7 linked regions of the Homo sapiens genome follow. The protein of the gene in region 1 purifies or fractionates together with the protein of each later gene. This does not show direct contact. Each region holds a gene or a part of one and is shown in the gene's direction. Other genes may lie near its edges.

Evidence for each region.
Region 2: the proteins of RNF115 (region 1) and SERPINA3 purify together in Homo sapiens (affinity purification with mass spectrometry; one large-scale study listed by BioGRID and IntAct). This does not show direct contact.
Region 3: the proteins of RNF115 (region 1) and CTSV purify together in Homo sapiens (affinity purification with mass spectrometry; one large-scale study listed by BioGRID and IntAct). This does not show direct contact.
Region 4: the proteins of RNF115 (region 1) and IL36RN purify together in Homo sapiens (affinity purification with mass spectrometry; one large-scale study listed by BioGRID and IntAct). This does not show direct contact.
Region 5: the proteins of RNF115 (region 1) and DSG3 purify together in Homo sapiens (affinity purification with mass spectrometry; one large-scale study listed by BioGRID and IntAct). This does not show direct contact.
Region 6: the proteins of RNF115 (region 1) and IL36G purify together in Homo sapiens (affinity purification with mass spectrometry; one large-scale study listed by BioGRID and IntAct). This does not show direct contact.
Region 7: the proteins of RNF115 (region 1) and ACP7 purify together in Homo sapiens (affinity purification with mass spectrometry; one large-scale study listed by BioGRID and IntAct). This does not show direct contact.

The regions. Positions count from the first base shown.
Region 1 is NC_000001.11:145,764,939-145,769,009, reverse strand, and holds part of RNF115 (E3 ubiquitin-protein ligase RNF115), read left to right. Parts: intron 1-4,071. UniProt on the Homo sapiens protein: E3 ubiquitin-protein ligase that catalyzes the 'Lys-48'- and/or 'Lys-63'-linked polyubiquitination of various substrates and thereby plays a role in a number of signaling pathways including autophagy, innate immunity, cell proliferation and cell death.
Region 2 is NC_000014.9:94,611,206-94,615,190, forward strand, and holds the start of SERPINA3 (alpha-1-antichymotrypsin precursor), read left to right. Parts: upstream 1-1,185; 5' UTR 1,186-1,242; exon of another isoform or gene 1,243-1,334; intron 1,335-2,141; exon of another isoform or gene 2,142-2,164; intron 2,165-2,830; exon of another isoform or gene 2,831-3,034; intron 3,035-3,228; 5' UTR 3,229-3,236; coding exon 3,237-3,879; intron 3,880-3,985. UniProt on the Homo sapiens protein: Although its physiological function is unclear, it can inhibit neutrophil cathepsin G and mast cell chymase, both of which can convert angiotensin-1 to the active angiotensin-2.
Region 3 is NC_000009.12:97,032,386-97,036,439, reverse strand, and holds part of CTSV (cathepsin L2 preproprotein), read left to right. Parts: intron 1-746; coding exon 747-912; intron 913-1,596; coding exon 1,597-1,714; intron 1,715-3,391; coding exon 3,392-3,491; 3' UTR 3,492-4,054. UniProt on the Homo sapiens protein: Cysteine protease. May have an important role in corneal physiology.
Region 4 is NC_000002.12:113,061,867-113,065,484, forward strand, and holds the end of IL36RN (interleukin-36 receptor antagonist protein), read left to right. Parts: intron 1-257; coding exon 258-385; intron 386-586; coding exon 587-811; 3' UTR 812-2,878; downstream 2,879-3,618. UniProt on the Homo sapiens protein: Inhibits the activity of interleukin-36 (IL36A,IL36B and IL36G) by binding to receptor IL1RL2 and preventing its association with the coreceptor IL1RAP for signaling.
Region 5 is NC_000018.10:31,468,049-31,472,119, forward strand, and holds part of DSG3 (desmoglein-3 preproprotein), read left to right. Parts: intron 1-1,040; coding exon 1,041-1,301; intron 1,302-4,071. UniProt on the Homo sapiens protein: A component of desmosome cell-cell junctions which are required for positive regulation of cellular adhesion. Required for adherens and desmosome junction assembly in response to mechanical force in keratinocytes.
Region 6 is NC_000002.12:112,976,446-112,981,036, forward strand, and holds the start of IL36G (interleukin-36 gamma), read left to right. Parts: upstream 1-1,560; 5' UTR 1,561-1,633; intron 1,634-2,174; 5' UTR 2,175-2,193; coding exon 2,194-2,248; intron 2,249-2,775; coding exon 2,776-2,880; intron 2,881-3,563; coding exon 3,564-3,703; intron 3,704-4,521; exon of another isoform or gene 4,522-4,591. UniProt on the Homo sapiens protein: Cytokine that binds to and signals through the IL1RL2/IL-36R receptor which in turn activates NF-kappa-B and MAPK signaling pathways in target cells.
Region 7 is NC_000019.10:39,086,958-39,091,028, forward strand, and holds part of ACP7 (acid phosphatase type 7 isoform 1 precursor), read left to right. Parts: intron 1-4,071.

The DNA.
Region 1 (4,071 bases):
TCCTTCCAAGGCACCAGTATATCAGTAAATAGAACTTGAAAGTTTTTAATTCAGTTTCTTTTCTCTTTTCTTTCATAGAAGTATAAATAAACACAGTATATCTTTGGGGCCTATTACTATACCCAGCTAGCAGGCCTGCCTAGATTGTTCCATATGGTTGTTACTTTACAGTAATTGTCATTATGATGTCACTGTATGTTTTGAAAGTACAATTTCATGTTTTATACATTTTTAAAAATTGATTGAATTTTAGCATGGCTTCTTCCTGATAACAGTTTTGTCCTCTTGCTTTGAGAAGGAGCATATGGGCATTCCACTTATGGTTTCCATGGGCTGCATCTCAGATTCCTGTTCATTCTACGGGTTTCACTGTAGACAGAGTACTTTGTATTTAATGGCCGGGTGCGGTGGCTCACACCTGTAATCAGCACTTTGGGAGGCCGAGGCAGGTGGATCACTTGAGGTCAGGAGTTCCAGATCAGCCTGGCCAACATGATGAAATCCCATCTCTACTAAAAATCCAAAAATTAACCAGGCATGGTGGCGGTTGCCTGTTATCGCAGCTACTCAGGAAGCTGAGGCAGGAGAATCACTTGAACCTGGGAGGTGGAGGTTGCAGTGAGCCGAGATTGCGCCACTGTACTCCAGCCTGGGCGACAGAGCAAGACCTCATTTCAAGAAAAAGAGTACTTTGGCTGGCGCCAACAGGGTCCAGGTCTGTGCCTGCCATTGGAGAGGATGCCACAGCCACAGGGGTGGGCGCTGGCCTGGAGGCCTCCAAGGGGCATCTCCTGTGAGCCCAGGGGATGGGCAGGATCTGAGCGGAGAAGAGTGAAAGTGGAGGAGTGAGGCCAGAACAAAGGCTTTGCCGTGAAAGAGGTGGTTTCCCGCCTAGGCTCTGACCTTCACTCACTGTGTGGCCCAGGCCAAGGGCAAGCGTCTGACCTCGCTGGGCCTTTGTTTCTCAGGGGTAAGATGAAACAATGGCTCCCTCTCCCTCTCCCTCTCCCTCTCCCCACGGTCTCCCTCTCCCTCTCTTGCCATGGTCTCTCTCTGTCTCTGATGCCGAGCCGAAGCTGGACTGTGCTGCTGCCATCTCGGCTCACTGCAACCTCCCTGCCTGATTCTCCTGCCTCAGCCTGCCGAGTGCCTGCGATTGCGGGCGCGCGCCGCCACGCCTGACTGGTTTTCGTATTTTTATGGTGGAGACGGGGTTTCGCTGTGTTGGCCGGGCTGGTCTCCAGCTGCTAACCGCGAGTGATCCGCCAGCCTCGGCCTCCCGAGGTGCCGGGATGGCAGACGGAGTTGCGTTCACTCAGTGCTCAATGGTGCCCAGGCTGGAGTGCAGTGGCGTGATCTCGGCTCGCTACAACCTCCACCTCCCAGCTGCCTGCCTTGGCCCCCCAAAGTGCCGAGATTGCAGCCTCTGCCCGGCCACCACCCCTTCTGGGAAGTGAGGAGCGTCTCTGCCTGGCCGCCCATCGTCTGGGATGTGAGGAGCCTCTCTGCCTGGCTGCCCAGTCTGGAAAGTGAGGAGCGTCTCTGCCCGGCCGCCATCCCATCTAGGAAGTGAGGAGCGTCTCTGCCCGGCCGCCCATCATCTGAGATGTGGGGAGCGCCTCTGCCCTGCCACCCCGTCTGGGATGTGAGGAGCGTCTCTGCCCGGCCGCCCCGTCTGAGAAGTGAGGAGACCCTCTGCCTGGCAACTGCCCTGTCTGAGAAGTGAGAAGCTCCTCCGCCGGGCAGCCACACCGTCTGAGAAGTGAGGAGCCCCTCCGCCCGGCAGCCACCCCGTCTGGGAAGTGAGGAGCGTCTCCGCCCGGCAGCCACCCCGTCCGGGAGGTGAGGAGCCCCTCCGCCCGGCAGCCGCCCCGTCTGAGAAGTGAGGAGCCCCTCTGCCGGGCCAGCCGCCCCGTCCGGGAAGGAGGTGGGGGGGTCAGCCCCCTGCCCTGCCAGCCGCCCCGTCCGGGAGGTGAGGGGCGCCTCTGCCCGGCCACCCCTACTGGGAAGTGAGGAGCCCCTCTGCCCGGCCAGCCACCCCGACCGGGAGGGAGGTGGGGGGGTCAGGTCAGCCCCCCGCCCGGCCAGCCGCCCCGTCCGGGAGGTGAGGGGCGCCTCTGCCTGGCCGCCCCTACTGGGAAGTGAGGAGCCCCTCTGCCCGGACAGCCGCCCCGTCCGGGAGGGAGGTGGGGGGGTCAGCCCCCCCCCCCCCCCCCCCCCGGCCAGCCGCCCTGTCCGGGAGGTGAGGGGCGCCTCTGCCCGGCCGCCCCTACTGGGAAGTGAGGAGCCCCTCTGCCCGGACAGCCGCCCCGTCCGGGAGGGAGGTGGGGGGGTCAGCCCCCCGCCCGGCCAGCCGCCCCATCCGGGAGGGAGGTGGGGGGGTCAGCCCCCCGCCCGGCCAGCCGCCCCGTCCGGGAGGTGAGGGGCGCCTCTGCCCGGCCGCCCCTACTGGGAAGTGAGGAGCCCCTCTGCCCGGCCACCACCCCGTCTGGGAGGTGTACTCAACAGCTCATTGGGAACAGGCCATGATGACAATGGCGGTTTTGTGGAATAGAAAGCGGGGAAAGGTGAGGAAAAGATTGAGAAATCAGATGGTTGCCGTGTCTGTGTAGAAAGAGGTAGACATGGGAGACTTTTCATTTTGTTCTGTACTAAGAAAAATTCTTCTGCCTTAGGATCCTGTTGATCTGTGACCTTACCCCCAACCCTGTGCTCTCTGAAACATGTGCTGTGTCCACTCAGGGTTAAATGGATTAAGGGCGGTGCAAGATGTGCTTTGTTAAACAGATGCTTGAAGGCAGCATGCTTGTTAAGAGTCATCGCCACTCCCTAATTTCAAGTACCCAGGGACACAAACACTGCGGAAGGCCGCAGGGTCCTCTGCCTAGGAAAACCAGAGACCTTTGTTCACTTATCTGCTGACCTTCCCTCCACTATTGTCCTATGACCCTGCCAAATCTCCCTCTGCGAGAAACACCCAAGAATGATCAATTAAAAAAAAAAAAAAGAAAAAGAGTACTTTGTATTTGTATTTAAGAAATCAGATGTCAGAGATTAGCCTTTGTGGGATTATTAGTGTGTTCCTCACACCAACTTAATAAGTTTCCCTGAAATGAGGTCCATTTTCTTTGACTTTTTCATTGGCATGAGTAAAACTTTTTTACTAACACAGAGACAGGGAACTCTCACATTGTTCATTCATTCTGCAAATATTTATTCAGTGTCCCTAAAGTATGTGCTTTATCCTCTAATCTGCAGCTTTTGAATGATAGTTAATTAGGTCTTGAATAGACTAGCTCATCTTATCTGACTTTAAGTGCATCTGACCTGTGCCAGCAGATTAATTTATAAATTTATAACTGAGGGTATTCTGTTTCAGTGACTATAAAACTCATTTGTTTGTTAGCATACTCTTGTCTTTGAATTTCTCAAGTATCAAGAAATCAAAAGCAATCAGATGGTTGTTTAGTACATATAGAATCAGCAAGGAAATTGCATGATCTTTAAGAGAAATTCCATCCAGATTGTGATAAATGCTAAGGAATTACTCATATTTCACTTCAAATAATTTTTTTTTAATTTTTTTTTTTTTTATTGATCATTCTTGGGTGTTTCTCGCAGAGGGGGATTTGGCAGGGTCATAGGACAATAGTGGAGGGAAGGTCAGCAGATAAGCAAGTGAACAAAGGTCTCTGGTTTTCCTAGGCAGAGGGCCCTGCGGCCTTCCACAGTGTTTGTGTCCCTGGGTACTTGAGATTAGGGAGTGGTGATGACTCTTAACAAGCATGCTGCCTTCAAGCATCTGTTTAACAAAGCACATCTTGCACCGCCCTTAATCCATTTAACCCTGAGTGGACACAGCACATGTTTCAGAGAGCACAGGGTTGGGGGTAAGGTCATAGATCAACAGCATCCCAAGGCAGAAGAATTTTTCTTAGTACAGAACAAAATGAAGTCTCCCATGTCTACTTCTTTCTACACAGACACAACAACAATCCGATTTCTCTATCCCTTCCCCACCTTTCCCCCTTCTCTGTTCCACAAAACCGCCATCGTCATCATGGCCCGTTC
Region 2 (3,985 bases), on another chromosome or scaffold:
AGGTGGTCTGCCCACGTCAGCCTCCCAAGATGCTGGGATTACCAGCATGAGCCACTAGTCCCGCCCAGGATTTTTTTTTTCCTTTTTCATGAGCCAAAGAAAGACCCCAGACTAGCTAAGAGAGAGGCCCAAGGATACCTGAAGGCCGGGGAGGAGGGACAACCACTTGTTGGGGTGAACCAATCGCAGAGGCTCAGCAGGACAGAGGCCAAGGCTGAGGAGGCCCCCACAGAGAAACAGAGCCTGAGGACAAGGGGTTCCTCACAACACCTGTGCTCCCCGAAAGCTCCCCTCCACACCCCTCTCTAGGTGCCCTACTCTCTGGGGTTGGTGAAGGGGTGCCAAAAATGCAAACTGATCCACAGAAAAATAGAGTCCTGTATTTTAAAAATATATCTAGGTTTGTATATGGACATTCACATCACACAGACACACAGACACACATGCAGCCACACACACACACACACACAGAGACACCAAAGAAAAGTGCTTTAGAAATACACCAAAATGTGGCTGGGTGCGGTGGCTCATGCCTGTAATCCCAGCACTTTGGGAGGCTGAGGTGGGCAGATCACGAGGTCAGGAGTTCAAGACCAGTCCGACCAACAAGGTGAAACCCTGTCTCTACGAAAAATACAAAAATTAGCTGGGCGTGGTGGTGTGTGCCTGTAGTCCCAGCTACTCGGGAGGCTGAGGCAGAAAGTTGCTTGAACCCGGGAGTCAGAGGTTGCAGTGAGCTGAGATCACGCCACTGCACTCCAGCCTGGGCAACAAAGCAAGACTCTGTCTCAAAATAAAAATAAAAAATAAAAAGAAATAAAAAAGAAATATACCAAAATGTTAGCTGGGGTCTTCTCTGGGTAGTAAAGTGCTGGGGGATATTTTCCAAAGTCCTTCTTTACATTCTCTGAGTTTTTCCATGTTCTTCAATGAGTATTTAATAAGCAGATAAAAACTAATACAACAAAGGATTTTTTCTGTGTGCTTTTTTGACCTTTGGAGGAAGAGATTAGAGCTAGTCCCATAACCAGGTTATTTGAGTAGGTCTAACAAGCCCGTATTACCAGAAATTATCATCTGGTCATTTCCAGTCCGAGAACAGAACACTTGGTTGTCCTGGCATTTCCCAAGCAGGGGGAGGAGTTCTCTGCAGGAATAAATAAGCCTCAGCATTCATGAAAATCCACTACTCCAGACAGACGGCTTTGGAATCCACCAGCTACATCCAGCTCCCTGAGGCAGGTAATCCATGATGTTTTACATCCTGGGAGCGGAGGAATCTGTTTTTCCAGGAGAGTTTTAGGCAGCAGCCTGGAGTGTGTGGAGTGTGAGGGGTAAGCAGAGGCCAGGAGGAGGTGTACTCAGGTGTTAGGGGCCAGGGGTCTGTTCTTGGCTGCCACTGATTCCCTGTGCCTTTTTTAGAGGCATCCTCTGTGTCTGGGTTTTCACACCTGCAAAGGGTGGAGGTGCCCTGGGGCCTCTATGGTCATTTCTGCCTTGATACTTACAGATTCGGATTTGAGTCAGCTGTGCATCTGACCCTCAGGGAAGAGGTGCTGTCCCCTTGCCTGGAGCAGGGTGCAGCTCTCAGAACATGTGGCAGATGTGATTATTGCAGCAGGTCCCTCTGAGCAGAGGCCACAGGCCTCACCATGATTTCAGGGTCTCCATGGGGCTGCCTCGGGAGCTCCACTTCCCCAAAAGGACCCCTGGCCAAGTCGACAGATGGGCTGTGTCTCTGTCCAGCAACAGAAAAGACAAACTGCTGGGAAACAGCCAGCCCTCCAACTTGCCCAAACAGAAAAGACAAGCCTTTGCCCCTGAAATAATTCTGGAGAAAAATATTGTCTAACATTTATCCAGAGAAATGATTGCATCAGCCTGAGAGTGAACAGTTGAAGCAAACAAGGTGCCTCTGTCCCTGGGCTTGGCCAAAGGCATTTCCACTGGCCTCCCCTCCTTCCCCTCCTTCCCCTCCTTCCCCTCCTTCCCTTCCTTTCCTTCCTTCCCTTCCTTCCACTCTCTCTTCCCCTTTTCTTCTCCTCTCTCTACCCCTCTCCCCTCCCCTCCCTTCCAATCGCCTCTCTTCCCCACTCTTCTCCCCAGCACCCAAGCTGCCCCTTTTCTCTTCTGAATTCTAGGACTGAGTGGGCGGAGGCTGAAGGTGAATAATCTTGTTTGCTGCGGTCACCGGCTTGGAACTCAGCCCTTCCAGGGTCTCTTGTGCAGTAGCTCATGGCTCTTCTCTGGCTTGTAGTTTCAGGAAAGGGGTAGTATGGGAGGTGGTGACTGCTCGGTACGTCTAATATGAACCAGGTGCCTTCATCATTTATCTCACCTGAGCCACTTAACAGGTTGTGCAGAGACGGAAACAGGTTGAGAGATGTACAGTCACCTGCTTGCCAGTACACAGCAATCAAAAGTGGCCAAAATAAAATCCCAGTCCAAGTCTGGGAGACTCCAAAGCCCTCTCTGCCTTCTCCCCACTAAGAGGCCCTTCCAGGCTTATGGTGGACACAGACACCACGTGGCAACCTGGCAGGGGCAGAGAAGAACATTTGCCTTTCTTTGGTCTTGCTGCCAACCATTATCAGGGCCATCGAGGCTCCAGACACTGTACCAGGGACTTTCATTTCCCTCTCTCAGTCGACCCTCACTGCCACCCAGCATCACATCGTGGAGGCCTGTGGAGGCCACACCACGTGACATCTAGAGGCTGGGAGAGTCACTGTGGCCTCTATCTCTGCCCAGGGCTCCTTCATCCCTGGGTTCTACTTTGGTGGCAGTTGGGAGAATGAAGGAAGGGAGCCCCTGCTTTCTAATCCCCTAGGATGAGATCTGCTCACCAAGCAGGAGAGGAGCAGGCATTCTGATTGGACTGAACCTCGGACCCCCCATCAGCTTACAGACCGAGGAGCCAGGCAAACCTGGCTGCCCACTGGGCTCCTTTACCTGTTTGCTGTATGATCTTGGGCAAGCCCCCTCACCGCTCTGTGCCCGGCTTTTCCACTGCAAGAAAATGGCAACAATTATGGTACCTACCTCAAAGGGTGAAATGAAGCAGAGTGATGTGTGTCGGGTGCCCCAGAGAGCACCTACCTGAGGGAGGCTCCAAAGCTAGCAAGAGGCAGCAGGACAGGGACCAGGACGCAGGCTGGGTGGAGGGCAGTGGGAGGTGGTCGGGGCTCCATCTGGCCCTCTGAGACTTAAAGGAGCTTTGCTTTTCAGAGTTGAGAATGGAGAGAATGTTACCTCTCCTGGCTCTGGGGCTCTTGGCGGCTGGGTTCTGCCCTGCTGTCCTCTGCCACCCTAACAGCCCACTTGACGAGGAGAATCTGACCCAGGAGAACCAAGACCGAGGGACACACGTGGACCTCGGATTAGCCTCCGCCAACGTGGACTTCGCTTTCAGCCTGTACAAGCAGTTAGTCCTGAAGGCCCCTGATAAGAATGTCATCTTCTCCCCACTGAGCATCTCCACCGCCTTGGCCTTCCTGTCTCTGGGGGCCCATAATACCACCCTGACAGAGATTCTCAAAGGCCTCAAGTTCAACCTCACGGAGACTTCTGAGGCAGAAATTCACCAGAGCTTCCAGCACCTCCTGCGCACCCTCAATCAGTCCAGCGATGAGCTGCAGCTGAGTATGGGAAATGCCATGTTTGTCAAAGAGCAACTCAGTCTGCTGGACAGGTTCACGGAGGATGCCAAGAGGCTGTATGGCTCCGAGGCCTTTGCCACTGACTTTCAGGACTCAGCTGCAGCTAAGAAGCTCATCAACGACTACGTGAAGAATGGAACTAGGGGGAAAATCACAGATCTGATCAAGGACCTTGACTCGCAGACAATGATGGTCCTGGTGAATTACATCTTCTTTAAAGGTGAGTGTGCCTGGCTTGGGGTTCAGAAGAGGTGGATCTCAGGGCCATTTCTGTCCTGACTCAACAATGGTGTTATTAGGCAAACCACTGTAGAGGAGAGTGCCCA
Region 3 (4,054 bases), on another chromosome or scaffold:
AATTCACATTTTATATGGTAGAATCTACATCTGCAAACCGTGAGTATTGTCATTATAAATTATTAGCCTTTGGCCAGGCGTGGTGGATCACCTGTAATCCCAGCAGTTTGGGAGGCCGAGACAGGCGGATCACGAGGTCAGGAGATCAAGACAATCCTGGCTAACACAGTGAAACCCCGTCTCTACTAAAAATACAAAAAAATTAGCCCGGCCTGGTGGCGGGTGCCCGTAGTCCCAGCTACTCAGGAGACTGAGGCAGGAGAATGACGTGAACCCGGGAGGCGGAGCTTGCAGTGAGCCAAGATCGCACCACTACACTCCAGCCTGGGCCGCAGAGCGAGACTCCATCTCAAAAAAAAAAAAAAATTATTAGCCTTTGCACAGTTCTCTGGTGAGATGGTCAACAGCTAATGGTTACCATATAAGTACCATTAGATGGTTAACACACAGCTGTTCTTGCTTTTACATAACATGGAGAATAAGCAAACCATTCTACATATAATAGAACTTTATCCATTGTGAAAAATTTTTTATGGACAGATTGACCTAGGGGTTCTCATTGAAGAAATGTCAACTAATTTTTCATTTTCAAATCAACAAATAGCATTTTATTTCATGGGACGATTTATAAGGGTGTTGATTTGGAAATCCTAGGTTGCAAATTGCTGAGTGTTTCGGTTCTAGAACTAATGTTCCCCAGGAGGTAGATGGTAGTGATCAAGTCTCTCCCCCTTTAACTTTAAAAGGATGAAATCTGTAAGTACAGACCTGAGAATTCTGTTGCTAATGACACTGGCTTCACAGTGGTCGCACCTGGAAAGGAGAAGGCCCTGATGAAAGCAGTCGCAACTGTGGGGCCCATCTCCGTTGCTATGGATGCAGGCCATTCGTCCTTCCAGTTCTACAAATCAGGTAAGTGTCATTTTATTATAGAAATTTAGGCAGAATTGGGAAGCATCACTGTGATTGATTCTTGGATATGACATCCTGCTTTGCAGGAATGTAGTATTTTGAGAGTGAGCATTTAACATAGTGATGTTTGCATTTGACATGAGAAAATACTTAGTTATGTTAAACTTCTCATAAATATTTTTAAATGGCTATGTAATTGTATAGAGACAACCTAATTTTCCAAACTATTTTCCAGTTGTTGGGCCTTTTTTTCTCAAAGTTTTTTACTACTGTAATTAGGACTGTAAAGAATCCCCTTCAAGTTTTTGTTTGTTTATTTTGGTGCTATTTTAGACTGACATCCTAGGAACAGAAAGGGATTATGCGAGTTGGTATTTGGGCTCAGAGATATCTAAATCACCTTAGCTGTAAACAATAGGTTTTATCTTTTGGATTTTCATTTTTTTTGGTAGAAAATATCTTGAACTTAGTTGAAGTTAGTTGATTTCTAGTGAGTTGAGGTTGACTTTTTTCCTTTATCAGCCATTACTGTTTTCCGGCCAATATTGTTTGGGTCCTTATTTGGCATTTGTTTATGACATTTTACTGAATTTAGAGATGCCTCCCTTATGGAGGGTGGTAGGGTGGGTTACTGTCACATGTCGCTTGGAGCTTCTCACCCCAGCATTAATTTTACTCTCCCAGGCATTTATTTTGAACCAGACTGCAGCAGCAAAAACCTGGATCATGGTGTTCTGGTGGTTGGCTACGGCTTTGAAGGAGCAAATTCGAATAACAGCAAGTATTGGCTCGTCAAAAACAGGTATAAAACTCAAAATTGAAAAGGGAATTTTTGTTCCAAATCAGTATTTGGATACAAGTTCACAAAAGCTCAATTTCAAAATTCCGAAAGTCTTTCTTCTACTTAGAGTGAACACAGAAATATTAATGTTTGATTATAAGATTCCGTACCAAGCTTTTTGGAGTTATTGCTATGTATTTGTAATATTTTATTACTAAGTTTTGAAAATTTTTAAATTCTGAAACACATTAGTCCTCAAGGGTTTCAGACAAAGGACTGTGGACCTGTAGGTTTGAGAGCTGATTGCTTTTTTCTGTCTAATTTTTCAACAAGGAATAGTAAGCAGAAACATCTGCCTCTGCTGGTTCTTTGTTAAGTCTGAGAGATCATCCGGGAGTCCAGTGGTCTGTGTGCATCCTTCTATTGTCATTGGATGCCCTGTCATCGAATTTCACTCCCCAGCTCTCAGGCTTTGAAGGTTGTCAGAATCTATTTTCTCACAATTAGCATTCTTTAATTGAGATGTGACATAAGGTAGTATGTGGGGACAGACTGCTACAGTGGAATTCCAGTTCTGCCTCAGTATCTTAAATAGTTAAGGACCCACAAGAATCAATATATTCATTCATTCATTTGTTTATTTATTTTTTGAGACAGAGTGTCGCTCTGTCACCCAGGCTGGAGTGCAGTGGCACGATCTCAGCTCACTGCAACCTCTGCCTCCTGAGTTCAAGTGATTCTCCTGCCTCAGCCTCCCAAGTAGCTGGGACTACAGGGATGTGCTACCATACCCAGCTAATTTTTTTTGTATTTTTTAGTAGAGACGGGGTTTCACCATGTATGCCAGGCTGCTGTCGAACTGACCTCATGTGATCCGCCTGCCTTGGCCTCCCAAAGCACTGGTATTACAGACATGAGCCACCGTGCCCAGCCAGTTTTATTTTATTCTGAGATGGAGTCTTGCTCTGTCACTCAGGCAAGAGTGCAGTGGTGCAATCTCGGCTCACTGCAGCCTCCACCTCTCGGGTTCAAGTGATTCTCCTGCCTCAGCCTCCCAAGTAGCTGGGACTATAGGCATGCGCCACCACGCCTGGCCAATTTTTATGGGGGTTTTTTTGTTTGTTTTTTTCTTTTGAGATGGAGTTTTGCTCTTCTTGCCCAGGCTGAAGTGCAGTGGTGCAATCTTGGCTCACTGGAACCTCTGCCTCCTGGGTTCAAATGATGATTCTCCTGCCTCAGCCTCCCAAGTAGCTGGGATTACATGCCCGGTTAATTTTTTTTTTTTTTTTTTTTAATTTAGTAGAGGCAGGGTTTCACCATGTTGGTCAAGCTGGTCTCAAACTCCTGAAACCTCAGGTGATCCACCCGCCTCAGCCTCCCAAAGTGCTGGGATTACAGGCATGCACCGCACCTGGCCAATTTTTGTATTTTTAATAGAGACGAGGTTTCACCAGATTGGCCAAGCTGGTCTCAAACTCCTGACCTCAAGTGATCTGCCCACCTCGGCCTCCCAAAGTGCTGGGATTGCAGGCGTGAGCCACTGTGCCCAGCCTCAGGACATTTATAAATGGATATTAACAGCATTTAGAATAGTGCCTGACACATGGGAAGCACTGTTTAAGTATTAGCTATTATTATTAATGGAGCCAATTTTCCCTTGATTCCTTGTATAAAATGGAAAACCTGCTCCTCTTTCAGCTGGGGTCCAGAATGGGGCTCGAATGGCTATGTAAAAATAGCCAAAGACAAGAACAACCACTGTGGAATCGCCACAGCAGCCAGCTACCCCAATGTGTGAGCTGATGGATGGTGAGGAGGAAGGACTTAAGGACAGCATGTCTGGGGAAATTTTATCTTGAAACTGACCAAACGCTTATTGTGTAAGATAAACCAGTTGAATCATTGAGGATCCAAGTTGAGATTTTAATTCTGTGACATTTTTACAAGGGTAAAATGTTACCACTACTTTAATTATTGTTATACACAGCTTTATGATATCAAAGACTCATTGCTTAATTCTAAGACTTTTGAATTTTCATTTTTTAAAAAGATGTACAAAACAGTTTGAAATAAATTTTAATTCGTATATAAAGGTGGGCCTTTTTTTAATGCATTGGCTTTTTGTGTAGTCAGGAAATATAATTAAGCTCTGAAATAATAACTTCATGTGCCAATGGTATGTTAGGAGAAAGATGCTAGCAGAAAGCTGGCTTCCTGGCTCTTGAGTAGTTATAAAAATACAGACTTTATATCAGCTGCCCAGTTACTGTGTGTTACCCAACTCCTGAATCTACCAAAATTTGATAAACAATTTGGAAGGACAAACCTACATTTTTTTTTTTTATGAGACGGAGTCTCTCT
Region 4 (3,618 bases), on another chromosome or scaffold:
TTTTGGGGTGTAGAGGCTTGAAGATTTGACCCTGAACTAGAGGGTGGAGTGGAGGTGGTACAATGTGCTTCCATGCCTTGATGTCCACTCTGAGCCAGTGGACAGGAGAAGCCATGTCATGACAGCTGCTGAGAAGCCTCCCTTCTGCCCAGCCTGGGGGCAGGCCGTCTTACAGCAGTCCTGTGCCCTAGAGCCCAGGACAGGGGAAGAAGGAGGGAAAGGCATCCAGGGCCCTGCATCTGGCCTCTTTCCCACAGGTGAAGAGATCAGCGTGGTCCCCAATCGGTGGCTGGATGCCAGCCTGTCCCCCGTCATCCTGGGTGTCCAGGGTGGAAGCCAGTGCCTGTCATGTGGGGTGGGGCAGGAGCCGACTCTAACACTAGAGGTGAGACTTGGGGCATCCTCACTGGGGACTCAGCCACAGATGCTGAGCCTACTGAAGCCGGGCAGCCCACAGCCCTGGTGCTGTGGGACACCCTAGCAGGATTCTGTTGATGGCAGCTTTGCCTCCTCCCTAAGGATCCTGCCCAGCCCTCCCTCTGCCCCTGCTTCTGCCCTCACCTGACCTCCCCTCCTCTGCCGGCAGCCAGTGAACATCATGGAGCTCTATCTTGGTGCCAAGGAATCCAAGAGCTTCACCTTCTACCGGCGGGACATGGGGCTCACCTCCAGCTTCGAGTCGGCTGCCTACCCGGGCTGGTTCCTGTGCACGGTGCCTGAAGCCGATCAGCCTGTCAGACTCACCCAGCTTCCCGAGAATGGTGGCTGGAATGCCCCCATCACAGACTTCTACTTCCAGCAGTGTGACTAGGGCAACGTGCCCCCCAGAACTCCCTGGGCAGAGCCAGCTCGGGTGAGGGGTGAGTGGAGGAGACCCATGGCGGACAATCACTCTCTCTGCTCTCAGGACCCCCACGTCTGACTTAGTGGGCACCTGACCACTTTGTCTTCTGGTTCCCAGTTTGGATAAATTCTGAGATTTGGAGCTCAGTCCACGGTCCTCCCCCACTGGATGGTGCTACTGCTGTGGAATCTTGTAAAAACCATGTGGGGTAAACTGGGAATAACATGAAAAGATTTCTGTGGAGGTGGGGTGGGGGAGTGGTGGGAATCATTCCTGCTTAATGGTAACTGACCAGTGTTACCCTGAGCCCCGCAGGCCAACCCATCCCCAGTTGAGCCTTATAGGGTCAGTAGCTCTCCACATGAAGACCTGTCACTCACCACTATGCAGGAGAGGGAGGTGGTCATAGAGTCAGGGATCTATGGCCCTTGGCCCAGCCCCACCTCCTTCCCTTTAATCCTGCCACTGTCATATGCTACCTTTCCTATCTCTTCCCTCATCATCTTGTTGTGGGCATGAGGAGGTGCTGATGTCAGAAGAAATGGCTCGAGCTCAGAAGATAAAAGATAAGTAGGGTATGCTGATCCTCTTTTAAAAACCCAAGATACAATCAAAATCCCAGATGCTGGTCTCTATTCCCATGAAAAAGTGCTCATGACATATTGAGAAGACCTACTTACAAAGTGGCATATATTGCAATTTATTTTAATTAAAAGATACCTATTTATATATTTCTTTATAGAAAAAAGTCTGGAAGAGTTTACTTCAATTGTAGCAATGTCAGGGTGGTGGCAGTATAGGTGATTTTTCTTTTAATTCTGTTAATTTACCTGTATTTCCTAATTTTTCTACAATGAAGATGAATTCCTTGTATAAAAATAAGAAAAGAAATTAATCTTGAGGTAAGCAGAGTAGACATCATCTCTGATTGTCCTCAGCCTCCACTTCCCCAGAGTAAATTCAAATTGAATCGAGCTCTGCTGCTCTGGTTGGTTGTAGTAGTGATCAGGAAACAGATCTCAGCAAAGCCACTGAGGAGGAGGCTGTGCTGAGTTTGTGTGGCTGGAATCTCTGGGTAAGGAACTTAAAGAACAAAAATCATCTGGTAATTCTTTCCTAGAAGGATCACAGCCCCTGGGATTCCAAGGCATTGGATCCAGTCTCTAAGAAGGCTGCTGTACTGGTTGAATTGTGTCCCCCTCAAATTCACATCCTTCTTGGAATCTCAGTCTGTGAGTTTATTTGGAGATAAGGTCTCTGCAGATGTAGTTAGTTAAGACAAGGTCATGCTGGATGAAGGTAGACCTAAATTCAATATGACTGGTTTCCTTGTATGAAAAGGAGAGGACACAGAGACAGAGGAGATGCGGGGAAGACTATGTAAAGATGAAGGCAGAGATCGGAGTTTTGCAGCCACAAGCTAAGAAACACCAAGGATTGTGGCAACCATCAGAAGCTTGGAAGAGGCAAAGAAGAATTCTTCCCTAGAGGCTTTAGAGGGATAACGGCTCTGCTGAAACCTTAATCTCAGACTTCCAGCCTCCTGAACGAAGAAAGAATAAATTTCGGCTGTTTTAAGCCACCAAGGATAATTGGTTACAGCAGCTCTAGGAAACTAATACAGCTGCTAAAATGATCCCTGTCTCCTCGTGTTTACATTCTGTGTGTGTCCCCTCCCACAATGTACCAAAGTTGTCTTTGTGACCAATAGAATATGGCAGAAGTGATGGCATGCCACTTCCAAGATTAGGTTATAAAAGACACTGCAGCTTCTACTTGAGCCCTCTCTCTCTGCCACCCACCGCCCCCAATCTATCTTGGCTCACTCGCTCTGGGGGAAGCTAGCTGCCATGCTATGAGCAGGCCTATAAAGAGACTTACGTGGTAAAAAATGAAGTCTCCTGCCCACAGCCACATTAGTGAACCTAGAAGCAGAGACTCTGTGAGATAATCGATGTTTGTTGTTTTAAGTTGCTCAGTTTTGGTCTAACTTGTTATGCAGCAATAGATAAATAATATGCAGAGAAAGAGAAACAAATGCATTTGTTTTATTATTGCAATTTTCTCCAATATTTTTTATTTTCTTTCTCACAATGAACAACTATCCTTCATTTACCCAAATATTCTATTTAAAAGCTAATAATACAGCATTTGTTGAGTCATCTGGTTCTGCAAGATTGAGATCCTCTTGTCCTATGTGCCAGGAATGAACTCCAGTGTCCCCACCCAAACCCTGGGGAATGGGAGCAGAAGCCAGAGGAGGAGCCCATATCTGAGCCCCAGGTATTCCACCTGCACTTCACCTGTTGGACCAGCTTGGTGGTTGAGAGTCCACTGAGGCACTGGCAAGGAGGTGGCCAGGACAGACAAGGCTGCCTCTATGGACCTCACAGCTCCAGCCCAGATTCAGCTGAAGTCCTCAGGCAACAGGCAGCACAGCTCCTACCCCAGGCCTCTCAGGGCTGCCAAGAACATGAGCTCCGGATGCTAGGCTGTGTTTCAGACCCTGTTCACACTCTCTTTGTCCATGGGCCCAGACACAGTCTTGTGCTGCTCCCTCTGCTTTTGGGTCCTCCATCCATCCTCTCTGCCTAGATAAATCTCTCATCTTTCAATACCCTGCTAAGATGTCACCTCCTCCAAGAAGCTTTTACTGAGTTGAGACACCCCCAGCTATCTGATCTGGCAATGTTTGTATGCACCTCCCTGCACTGTAGTACCTTAACTTGGAGTCTGTGGCCCCTGGGATGACCTTAAGGTTAGGGACATATAAG
Region 5 (4,071 bases), on another chromosome or scaffold:
TGGGCAAGGCACAATGTCAAAGGATATGGTGGGATCAAAAAGATTCAACAAATGCAATGCTGAACCTTACAAGAACTGTCGTGGGATCCACTTTAAAAAGGCAACATAGCAATGGGAGATAGAAAACAGTCTATGCTCAGGACTCAGATAGGCAATAGGCCATCACCACAAGGAAATCCCATATCATAGACCTGCAGCTCACGGGATAAGAACCAGGAAGAGCACTTGAGGTAGTAGCAGCCAAAGTTGAAAGTCTTGATAAGTAAAACACAAGAACACAAAGTCAGGAACACTAACACTCAAAGGGCCACACAAGTCCAAGGATTGGTGCAGACATACAAGAGAGTGGTTAAGCCCCAGAAGAGGAGTACCTGACTCTAAATGATGTCGCCCATCTTCTTTAGTGGGAAAAGCAGAGTAGAACTGAGTTTCATGGGAGAGAATAATTGGCCTACCTGCAACAGAGAGGACAAGGAGGCAGGTGTAGACAGATTTACCCACTTGAACCCATTATAGCCCTCATCACTGCTCAAACATCACTCTATTATCAACCCTATTGTTTGTGGCAACTAACTCTGCTAATGAAAATAAGTAGTAAGAGTGTAAGACACTGCTGTGGTTGGAATAGGTCTTCCAAAGCTCATGTGTTGAAAACTTAATCCCCACTGCAGTAGTGTTGAGAGGTGAGACCTGTAAGAGGAAATGAGGTCATGAGAGCTCTGTCCTCATGCATGGATTAATGGTGTTACCATGGGAGTGGGTTCATTACAGTAAGAGTGAGTTGTTATAAGGGTGAGTTCAGCCCCCACGTGCTCTCATGCTCTCTTGTCCTTCCACCTTCCACCGTGGGATGATGAAGTCCAAAGGCCTTTGTCAGATTCTGACACCTTGATATTGAGCTTCCCAACCTTCAAAACTGTGAGAAATAAATGTGTTTTCTTTATGAATTATCCAGTCTGTGATATTCTGTTATAGCAACACAAAATAGACTGAAAAGACACTTCGTCCTACTGTTGATTTGCATGATTCTTTCTCTACAGCTACCTCGGCCCTCCTCAGAGCCCAGGAACAGATACCTCCTGGAGTATACCACATCTCCCTGGTACTTACAGACAGTCAGAACAATCGGTGTGAGATGCCACGCAGCTTGACACTGGAAGTCTGTCAGTGTGACAACAGGGGCATCTGTGGAACTTCTTACCCAACCACAAGCCCTGGGACCAGGTATGGCAGGCCGCACTCAGGGAGGCTGGGGCCTGCCGCCATCGGCCTGCTGCTCCTTGGTCTCCTGCTGCTGCTGTGTGAGTAGCCAATGTTTCATTCTCTGTTGGACCAGGTGTCCTCATTTGCAAAGGCCTCCATGCTGCCCTGCTCATCTGTGCAATGGGGAAAGAATATTCTCTGATGTTTTATAGGTAAAGCTAGGGGAAAATGGCATTTTCAGAAAGAATCTGAAATGTGTAACATGTCGCTTGCTAACAGTCTATATTCATATAGCAACACAAGTTATATATGTCAGACATTTAGAAGACAGCACAAGATAATCAAGAGAAAAGCAAATCATGAAGACTTTCTACACACTGTTAGTAATGTTCATGGTCAAAATTATGGCTTTATCCAAGAGTGTGGCACTTTCTAAGATGTTTTCTCTATATTCATTACATCTCATGAGATTCTAAGATAAAAAGAGAACACTAGTCAAACAAAGTTAGGGAAATACAAATAGGGTATCATAGGCTATTAAGATATCACCACATGCTATTAATATTAATTAATTAATTAACCCCCACTAATATTAATCAATAGCATATGATATTAATATTAATATCATATGCTATTAAGATAGCTAGGTTCTGAGAAGTTATTGCTTCATCTAGCATTTCCTCAAAATAGATTGCCATCTGAATATGCATCCCCTTTAATACTTTCACATTTAATATAACTAAGTTTATTAAACACATTTAGAAAACTATGCGTAAGTATCCTTTTCCAATAAAGGTAAAATTTATTCAATAGATAGGTTTCTGAAAAGTTGTATTTGAATCAAAATCATATAAATCAAATAGTATTTGATTGTAAGAGGTCTCTATTTAAAAGAACTTCCTGACTAATTCTTGTATAAACAAGAGAAATCCTTGCTAAATTCACACTTTCTTAATTTATTATAAAAATCACAGTTTTAGAGTTAAAATTAATTATATGATTATTAATTTTAAAACCACAAAAAGTAGAGAAAATGTGTAGACAACTACACATACAACCATCACTTCAACTGAACAGATATGAATGTTTTGCAATATTTTTTCAGGTCCCTTTTTTTAAAAAGAAATAAATTGCTATAGATACAGCTAATTGCCACACATGCTATATTTTTCCCTTCCTTATTCTCCAAAAGCATTTACTATTCTAAAGTTATTATACACCATTTAGTTTAAGAGCTGAAATTGACACTCAGAGATTTGGTTTTTCAATATCGTATTAATCAAGTTCAAGAACCAGAAATTTTTAAGTACCTCTATGTGAATCACTATGCTAGCTTCTAGCTGAAAAGGAAACTTGATTTTGGTTTTCATGCATGTCTAACTATAGGGGAAAAATACCATGATAAAGCTGTAATAGAAATTACTACAAAGGGGTAATTACAGAACATTTCACGGAATAGAGGAATCATTCAATTGAGCCTTGAAGAATGATTAGGATATAATCAGTATAAAAAATGGAAAAGGCATTTCCAAAAATTGACAGCATCAGCCAAGGCCAGAAAACACTTAGTATTTTCTGTTTTAGGAATCACACAGCCTTCGAAGGCTAAAGCGCGGGGAAATTGTGGAAAGTGAAGGAGCAACAGAGAATGCATTGGGACTAATTTGAAAGGGCTACATACACATGCTGTGGTGTTTGTACTTTATCCTATGAGAAAGAGGAGCTGCTAAAAGCATTTGAATAAAAGACTAACATGATCATATTTGTATTTTAGAAAGACAACCCTGGCAACAGTGTGTACAGTATAACAGTGTAAATTAGAAAGGAAAGAACACTTAAGAGGTCATTGTAAAAGTTCAAGAGAGATGATGAAGGTCAGATTTCGAGCTGTGACATGAGACTGGAAAATAAAGGACAAGTGTGCAGTGCATTACAGTGGCCCCTGGAGAGGATTGGGAGATTAATTGTTATGGTCTGAATGTGTGTGTCCCCCCAAAAAAATTCATATGTTGAAACTTAAACCCTAAAAAAATAGTATTAAGGAGTTGGGCCTTTACCTATATTAATTCAATCCTCATAACAACCTATGATGTAGATACTATTTATTCCCCCATTTTATGGATGAGTTAACTGAGCAAAGAAGGATGATATTACATGCCCAACATTACATAGCTGTTAAGTGGTACAGCCGAAATTTAAACCCTAGAATCTGACTTCGGAGGCTGCATGCTTAAACCCCTCACTAAGCTGCCTCTAAGTGAAGAGAGTTGAAACATTAGGATTCAGGTGGCCTTGGCAGGGCAGAGGTGGCAGTGGGGCCACTGACAACAAAGTGTGGGAAACACCTGCTTTCAAGAATAAGTATTTCACTCTTGGTCAGTTCACATGAGAATGACATTAATCTTTATTGCCAAGGATGTGCACAGAAAGATATTTACGCTGCCAGAAGAGTCCTCCAAGCTTAAGCCACAACTAAGAAATTCTTAAATTACAATTAAGAATGCATTGACAGCCATTGATTAGGCTATCACCCTAGTTACTGAGGGAGTTTTCTGGTTAATTACTGTTTACTGAGAGATAATTAGAGACTAGATTACCAAAACACCATCGTGCCCACCTAAAATCTGGACCATTCTGGTCATATATTTATCTGTGTATTCACCTGACACAATATACATAGCCCCAACATGTGCAAATAAATGCAATAATCATAAAAATGTATTAAGGAAAAGGATTGAGGAGCCAAACAGCCACTTTCATTCATACATCAGTGCCTATTTTAAGAAAATATACCAAAAAAATAACAACAAGAAATGATCTGATCTGTCTCCTTCAGTTTCATAATCACATGAAATTCTAGTGTGCTTA
Region 6 (4,591 bases), on another chromosome or scaffold:
TACTCTCTTTTCAGAGGTCTGAGCATCAATTTGGCAGAGAACGCCTCACCTCCGACTCATATCTGGGGATAAGTCCTACAAAAGCGCTCCTTTGAGACCTAGGTTCTTTTGTTCCCTTTTGTTTCCTTCCTGTAGTTGTTACTATCTGAGATACCACAGCAATCCCTTAATCTTCTTTGGCTTTCCAACACACGTGTATCTAGTTCCTTTTATTCAATTCCCTTTGTTTGCAATTCCTAGCATGGATTCTGCTTTCAGAGGGATCCCAGTTGGAAATTCAGGCTTAAGGGATTTGGGGGGTCAAATGATGGGAATTTTAGATGCTGTTTTGTGGTGAACATCCCAAGAAAGGAGTTATGTTGACTGATGTGTAATGGAGGGGATTTTTAACAGGGCAATGGAGACTCAAGTGAGGTGGCACTGGCTCAGGTTGACTTTGAACAAAAGTGCACCTGGCATTACCACACTCTTTCCTAGGGTCACAGAAACACTGGAAGCCAAAAGTGATAGAATTGGGGCCATGGCAGGAAAGGACTGTGTTCTTCCAAGGCCAGAAAGGAGATTAGGGTGAAAAGTAAGAGACGTTGAGTCAGGAGACTCTTTGCAGGGCTGGGAAGAGGGGCTCATGGATGAGCTTATCTGGAAGGTTCTGTCTCATTCTTTGTGCTTTTCTTCCTTATAGATGGGTAAACCTGAAGCTGTTAGTGCTTCAAGTCTGTCTCCTAAAACTCACTTCACTCTAGTAGTTAACTTATACCTCAGTAAATTTTTAGGCTTGGCTACAGCAGATAGGATGGGGTGTATAAACAAGATATAAAAATAACTATTACCACTGATCAGGAACCTAGGGCAGAGGGTGGGGGATAAGCTGGCATCTGGGGCTCAGATTTGGGAGAAATCGCTGCCCACCTCTTTACTTCCTTAGGCAGTTCTGGAGTCCACTGCATTTTGAGGGTACCTGAAACTAGGATTGCCTCAGTTAAAAGACCAGTCTGCATAGTCCCTGTGGCTCCCCATGTGGATGGAGCTGAAAGAGTGTTAGGTAGGGGAGCTCTACTGCCTGGCTTTCCATTCAGGTGTGGCCTTAGGTGGGGTAGTTGAGAAATGCCACAGGGACCTTGCCTGAGACGTGTGGCTAATTTTGCTCTTACAGGATGCCTTTAGCCTGACTGCAGAGGGCAAGGCTCCCAGTCCCAGGAGATGGAGTCCCTGACATGAGAGTGCCTGGCATTTCCAGTTCTAGCTCTAGAATGACATGACAGGAGAGCTGAACTCTGGGAAATTCCCTTAGTTTCCCCTTTATGAGAAACCTAGGATCTGTCATCAACCTCATTTCCTTGTGGTTGATTTTGTGCGGATTGGCTCAACACTTATTTCTCAGCGAGCCCGGACAGGTGATACTTGTGCTAATTCTGTGATTTCTTCCTCCGAGCCTCACAGGATCTTCTGGTAGGAGGAGCTGGTTTTCTTTCATGTCATACGTTTCTCATGCCCCACCCAGGAAGCTGGAGCCTCCTTCTCTGCTCATCCAGATAAATGATCCAGGCTCCATTAGAACCCATCACTGACCTTGGAAGCTGCTGGAGCCACGATTCAGTCCCCTGGACTGTAGATAAAGACCCTTTCTTGCCAGGTATAGTCAATAGCTGGAAAACCTCTTCTCCCTCCCTCTGGAGCCTTTCCTCTCATCTGTGCTTTGGGCTTAATGAAGGGAAGGGCCACATCAGGCTGGCTCTGTGCTTTGTCCTATGTGTGGCTGCTTCTTACTGGGGAGTTGCTGGGATCCTGGCAGAGTGGCCCTGGCATGGGACCCTCCCCTGCTCCTAGGCAAAAACAATGCCGATGAAGGGGTGGAGGCTTCAGAGAAGAGGAGTCAGGGCATCAGGTGCCTGTGGGTTATTTAAGGTCAAATTTTATGCCTGGCCTTCGAACTCCTAGGGGAGACACTACCATACTATCTGGATCTCCAGGTGGAGGAAAATTCTACCTGTTCTCCCTTTGCTGATGCTTCCTTCAAGTTTCGTCCCAGATGTGGCTCAGAACTTCTGCCCAGAGCTTCGTGTCAGGCCAGGTTTCCCAGCTCCCTGTCTAGAATGAGGGCCTGTGGAGCTAGTGTCCTGGAAGGTCTTGGAAACATCTCTTGTGGTTCATCTGTTCTATGTCTGCTTTCACAGGTGCTGAGACAACCACACTATGAGAGGCACTCCAGGAGACGCTGATGGTGGAGGAAGGGCCGTCTATCAATCAAGTGAATCAAATGCTGTTGGGATGGGGCTCTGGAGGCTTAGGCCCTCTGCACTCACGCTATCTCCTGTGGAAGCCCCAGCCTTCTCTGCTCCTCTCTGTACACTGCCCTTCCCACCTGGTGCTGCCCACCTACCACTGGGCCCTGGGCTTCTGGAGGGTGGGAGCTATTGCTTAGTCACTGATCCAGCTCCAGTCCCCAGCACCGGGGCCAAGCACAGAGTAGGCACAAAAGAGGGTAGCTGGGCCTTGGCACACAGGTTCTGTGAGACTGCTCATTGCCCTCTGTCTTGATAGTTTGCCCTCTTAAACCAGTGACTTCCCTTGGTAGCCCTTGCCTTCCTCACCAGAGCTCACAACTTCACTAGAAAGAAAGGCTAGGCTGATGGGTGATGTGAGTGCTGTCAGTTTGGGGATGCAAACCCCACACCTTCCTTACAAAATGGCCTGGGTTAGATACTTTTCTCCTGGGTCTAGTAAAGCAGCCTTGATTATAATATTTCTTCATTTTTTTCTCTATCCCAAAATCAGTGTGTAAACCTATTACTGGGACTATTAATGATTTGAATCAGCAAGTGTGGACCCTTCAGGGTCAGAACCTTGTGGCAGTTCCACGAAGTGACAGTGTGACCCCAGGTGAGTGGTCACCCTGTGCCTTCCCCACTGTTTGCACTGCTGTGGCTGGGAAGCTGGCATCAGCCTTTTGTAAAAGTGTGACTTTACAATGGGGCCCACCAGGAGTGGGGAGAATTTCACACCTAATTGGGAAGAGAAGTCAGGGAGAACTTTGGGTTCCACTAAGATGAAGAAGCCAGAGATGGTGGAGGAGCCTCCAAGGGAATAGGAAAGCTGCTGTCAGTCATCTGAAGCCCTGTCTTATGGAAGACTAGTAGCTTGTTCTGCATGACTTCAGGGTGTCCTAAAATGACTAAATGGGTGAATACCACAGAAAGGCAGGTTTCAGCATCACATTGGGAAAAACTTGCAAAAGGGACCAAGCTCTCCAAGAATCAGAGGGGCTGCTTGATGTAGGAGCTCCCCATCTCCATGTGCTCAAGCAGAGGCGTGAGAATCTCAAGAGCATACTCTGTTGTCTGCTTAGCTCTCTGTGTTTGCTCATTTACTAGGGCAGTGATTGGCACATGGTATGAATGAATGAATGAATGAATGAATATGGGGGTTGGCCATTTGGTGGGTCTAGTTGGGATTACACTCTTCAGCTCTCTTCCAGATCCACTTGAGGATACTGCCCTGCTAAATCAAATAATCTTTCTGACTTCAAAAGGAAACTGATACCATCTCTCCTCTTATCTTTACAGTCACTGTTGCTGTTATCACATGCAAGTATCCAGAGGCTCTTGAGCAAGGCAGAGGGGATCCCATTTATTTGGGAATCCAGAATCCAGAAATGTGTTTGTATTGTGAGAAGGTTGGAGAACAGCCCACATTGCAGCTAAAAGTGAGTAGCTAAGAAAAATATTTAAAAAGCCTTTCCTTTTAGAAGTGTTTGGTTGAATACCTAATTTTAGAATTAAAAAAGAAATAGTCTCATCTTCCTAAGCATATTTATTCCCAGCCTCTTTTAAGTTATGTGCATGCAATACACTTTTCTTTTTATTCTGGCTGTCAGTAGTTAAGGTCCTTGTTTTGCTTTTTTTTTTTCCAAGCCAAACTGCATCCAGCTTTATTAAAGATACTTTCCATAAACATTCATGGTATTTCAGGCAGGATATGGGCAGACAATTGTTAAGAGTATGCAGCAAACTTCAAACTCCCTTGTTCAAAGGACTACCAAAAATCAGAAAGCCACTATAAAACTCAATGAAGTCTTCATCTGATGCTCTGAACAGGGAGAGTTTAGAGTGAGAGTTGACATTTCACATTTAGCATGTGGTTTAAACTTTTCACAAGCCAACCCTGACTTTCAGGAAGTGAAATGAAAATGGTAGAATTTATCTGAAGATCCACGATCTAGAAACAGAACCACTGCTCTTTTGACAGGTGCCATCTCAGTGGCATCACTGGAAAGTCCAGAGTGCCTGACATACTGGTAACCAATGATTGAGGGCCAGGTCCCAACAGATGTCTGGCTTAAAGGAGTTAAATCTATGCTGAAAGATGGAAAGGGAGAAGAGGACATAAAAATGAATTTATTTTCCATACCACAAGGCTTTTCTGCCAAGGTGGCCATGTGTGTCAAAGTCAGAGAATCCCTCCTCCTGGGAGCCAAGAGGAACTCTCTCAAAACTAGAAGGGAAAGGTGTTTTCCCCACATCGATCCAGCTTTGGAGACATTCTATTAGTGACATATGCCCCTTCCCCTAAAAACAACAATGAAGTGTTCTGG
Region 7 (4,071 bases), on another chromosome or scaffold:
AGAAATTGAGTGAGGAAAGTGGCATTGACTTGCATCTTTTAAAAATCTTTTATTTATTTATTTATTTTTGAGACAGGGTCTCGCTCTGTCAACCAGGCTGGAGTGCAGTGGCACAGTCTTGGCTCACTGCAGCCTCTGCCCCGCAGGGTTCAAGTGATTCTCCCACCTCAGCCTCCCGAGTAGCTGGGATTACAGGCACCCACCACCCCATACTTGGCTAATTTTTGTATTTTTTATACAGATGGAATTTCACCATGTTGCCCAGGCTGGTCTTGAATTCCTAAGCTCAAGCGATCCTCCAGTCTCGGCCTCCCAAAGTGCTGGGATTACAGACATGAGCCACCGCGCCCCGCCTAAAATCTCTTTAGTATCTGGTTTGGTAACTGACAACTGGATTCTCCTCAGATCTGTTTTCATTTTAGTCTGTTGTGATTTGTTGTTTTGGATTTTGCCTGTGAAGAAAATCTGTTCTTGCACAGACATGTGGTTGAAACAGGGAGAAAAGTTGCTTGTTTTTTGACACAGGGTTTGGCTCTGTCAGGGTTTGGCACTGGAGTGCAGTAGCACAAACATGGCTCACTGCAACCTCAACTCCGAGACTCAAGCGATCCTCCCACCTCAGTCTCTTGAATAGCTGGGACCACAGGGGCATGACACCATGCCCAGCTAATTTTGTTTTTTTTTTTTTTTTTTTGAGATGGAGCCTCACTCTGTTGGCCAGGCTGTAGTGCAATGGCATGATCTTGGCTCACTGCAAGCTCCACCTCCTGGTTTCAAGCGATTCTCCTGCTTCAGCCTCCCAAGTATCTGGGATTACAGGCATGCACCACCACACCTGGCTAATTTTTGTATTTTTAGTAGAGACGGGGTTTCACCATGTTGGCCAGGCTGGCCTCGAACTCCTGACCTCAAGTGATCCACCCACCTCTGCCTCCCAAAATGCTGGGATTACAGGCGTGAGCCACCGTGCCTGGCTCTAGTCCTACTCTTTTCTATCTGTGCCAGTTCCTCAGTCATTCCTTATCTTTCCTTGTTTTTCATGTCTTTTACATCTTCAAAGAAGATAGTTTCTTCTTTTTTTTTAGATAGGGTCTCACTCTGTCACCCACGCTGGAATGCAATGGCGCAATCATAGCTTACTGCAGCCTCTAACTTCTGGGCACAAGTGATCCTCCTGACTCAGCCTCCTGAGTAGCTGGGACTACAGACGTGCACTACCATGCCTGGCTAATTCTTTTTATTTTTTGTAGAGACAAGGTCTCACTATGTTGTCCAGGCTGGTCTCAAACTCCTGGGCTCAAGTGATCCTCCCACCTCAGCACCCCAAAGTGCTGGGATGACAGGGGTGAGCCACCATGCCCAGCAGAGAGAGGGTTTCTTAAAGGTTAGTTGCAATGTGGAATCAGAAACCACATGAATGAACTGGCTTGGCATTTGCCAGCCTAGTGACCTTGGACAAAGCGCTTTGCCTGGAGGCCTCTGTAAAAATGGGAAAGGCAGTAAAAACCCATCTCGTAGTGCTGCTGTGACAATCCAGTGAGATCATGGCTGTCCTTTTTCAGCCTACACAGTAACAATGGCAAATACACTCTTATAAGTGCTTTAGACGGATAACTCATTTAACCTGGTATCAACCTTAAGCTGTAGGTACCATTGCTACTCCCATTTGACAAGAGAGACTCACAGCAGGGGAAGAGTCTGACCCCAGTTCACACAGCCTGGGAATCTGAATGCCGGCAGGCTAGCTCAGAAGCCCACGATCTTTGTGGGTTTGTTTGTTTGTTTGTTTGTTTGTTTGTTTGTTTTGAGACAGAGTCTCACTCCGTCGCCCAGGCTGGAGTGCAGTGGTGTGGTCTTGGTTCACTGCAACCTCTGCCTCTCAGGTTCAAGGGATTCTCCTGCCTCAGCCTCCCGAGTAGCTGGGACTACCAGCGCGCATCACCATGCCTGGCTGATTTTTGTATTTGTATTTTTGCATTTTTTTTTTTTTGAGTCGTAGTCTCACTCTGTTGCCCAGGCTAGAGTGTAGTGGTGAGATCTTGGCTCACTGCAACCTCTGCCTCCCAGGTTCAAGCGATTCTCCTGCCTCAGTCTCTCAAGTAGCTTGGACTACAGGTGCATGCCACCACACCCAGCTAATTTTTGTATTTTAGTAGGGACGGGGTTTCACCGTGTTGCCCAGGCTGGTCTCGAACTCCTGACCTCAAGTAATCTACCCACCTCGGCCTCCCAAAGTGCTGGGATTACAGGCATGAGCCACTGTACCCGGCCCCTAATTTTTGTATTTTTCAGTAGAGATGGGGTTTCACCATGTTGGGCAGGTTGATCTTGAACTCCTGGCCTCAAGTGATCCACCCGCCTCGGCCTCCCAAACTGCTGGGATTACAGGTGTGAGCCACCATGCCCGGCCTATTTTAAAACTTTTAAATTTTGTACTACTTTTGGATTTAGCAGAAACATTCCAAAAATATTACAGAGTTCCTGTCTCCCCTCACTCAGTTTCCCCTGATGTTAACATTTTACGTAACCATGAACAATGATTAAAACTGAGAAATCAAGATTGGTACAATCCTGTTAACTAAACTACAGATCTCATTTGAATTTCACCCGTTTTTCTACTAATGTCCATTTCCCCTTCCAGAATCCGATCCAGGATCTCACATTGCATTTAGCTGTTGTGCCTCCCTAGTCTCCTCCCATCTATTAGTTTCTCAGTCTTCCCTTGTCTTTCATGCTCTTGGTATTGCCGAGTACCGATCAGCTATTTTGTACAGTATCTCTCGTTTGGGATTTGTCTGATACTTTCTCACCACTGGAATTAAGTTATGTATTTTTGGCAAGACTATCATAGATATGATGTTGTGCCCTTCTTGGCGCATGATACGAAGAATCAAGATGTGGCTGTGACTTATTGCTGTGACTTATTGATGTTGACCCTGATTGTTTCATTAAGGAGGTGCCTGCTGGGTTTCTCCACTATAAAGTAATTATTCTTCCCTTTGTAGTTAATAAATATCTTGAGGGAGATGGCTCAAGACAATGCAAATCCCATTTCTCCTCAATGTTTGCTCACTAATTTTAGCATCTTGTTAAAAGATCCTGCTGATAAGTGGATCTTATCGGCAACAATTAGTGTGGTATTTGCCTAATGGTGATTTTCTAATTTTCTAATGCCCTCCTTCTTTTTTTTTCTTTTTAAATTTTATAACCTTTGTTTTGTTTTGTTTTTGAGACGGAGTCTTGCTCTGTTGCCCAAGCTGGAGTGCAGTGGCGCAATCTCGGCTCACTGGAACCTCCACCTCCCAGGTTCAAGCAATTCTTCTGCCTCAGCCTCCTGAGTAGCGGGGATTACAGGCGCACGCTGCCATGCCTGGCCAAGTTTTTGTAATTTAGTAGAGACGGGGTTTCACTGTGTTGCCCAGGCTGGTCTTGAATTCCTGAGCTCAGGCAATCTGCCTGCCTCATCCTCCCAAAGTGCTAGGATTACAGGCATGAGCCACTGTGCCCGGCCAATAACTTTTAATTAATTAATTAATTAATTTTGAGACAGAGTCTTGCTCTGTCACCCAGGCTGGATTGCAGTGGCGCGATCTCAGCTCATTGCAACCCCTACCTCCCGGGCTCAAGTGACCCTCATCACTTCTGCCTCTTGAGTAGCTGGGACTACAGGGATGCACCACTATGCCTGGCAATTTTTGTATTTTTGTAGAGACAGAGTTTCACCATGTTGCCCAGGCTGGTCTGGAACTCCTGGGCTCAAGCAATCCACCTGCCTCAGCCTCCCAAAGTGTTGGGATTATAGATGTGAACTACTCGCCCAGCCTTCCCACTTCTTTTTTTTTTTTTTTTTGGTCTATTGTTCCTATTCAATATAGTAGCTCCTTCCATCTAATTGAAATTTTATTATAAGAAAGAGCTGTCCCTCCCTGCTCCCTTTATTACTTTATTCAATGATTTATTTACATCATGGACTCATGGATATCCATTTTATTCCATGGGTGAAAAATCTGATGTTATGATTGTCCCAGATTTGGTCTCTCAGAATTCCTTCAGATTGCGTTCTGTGTTCTT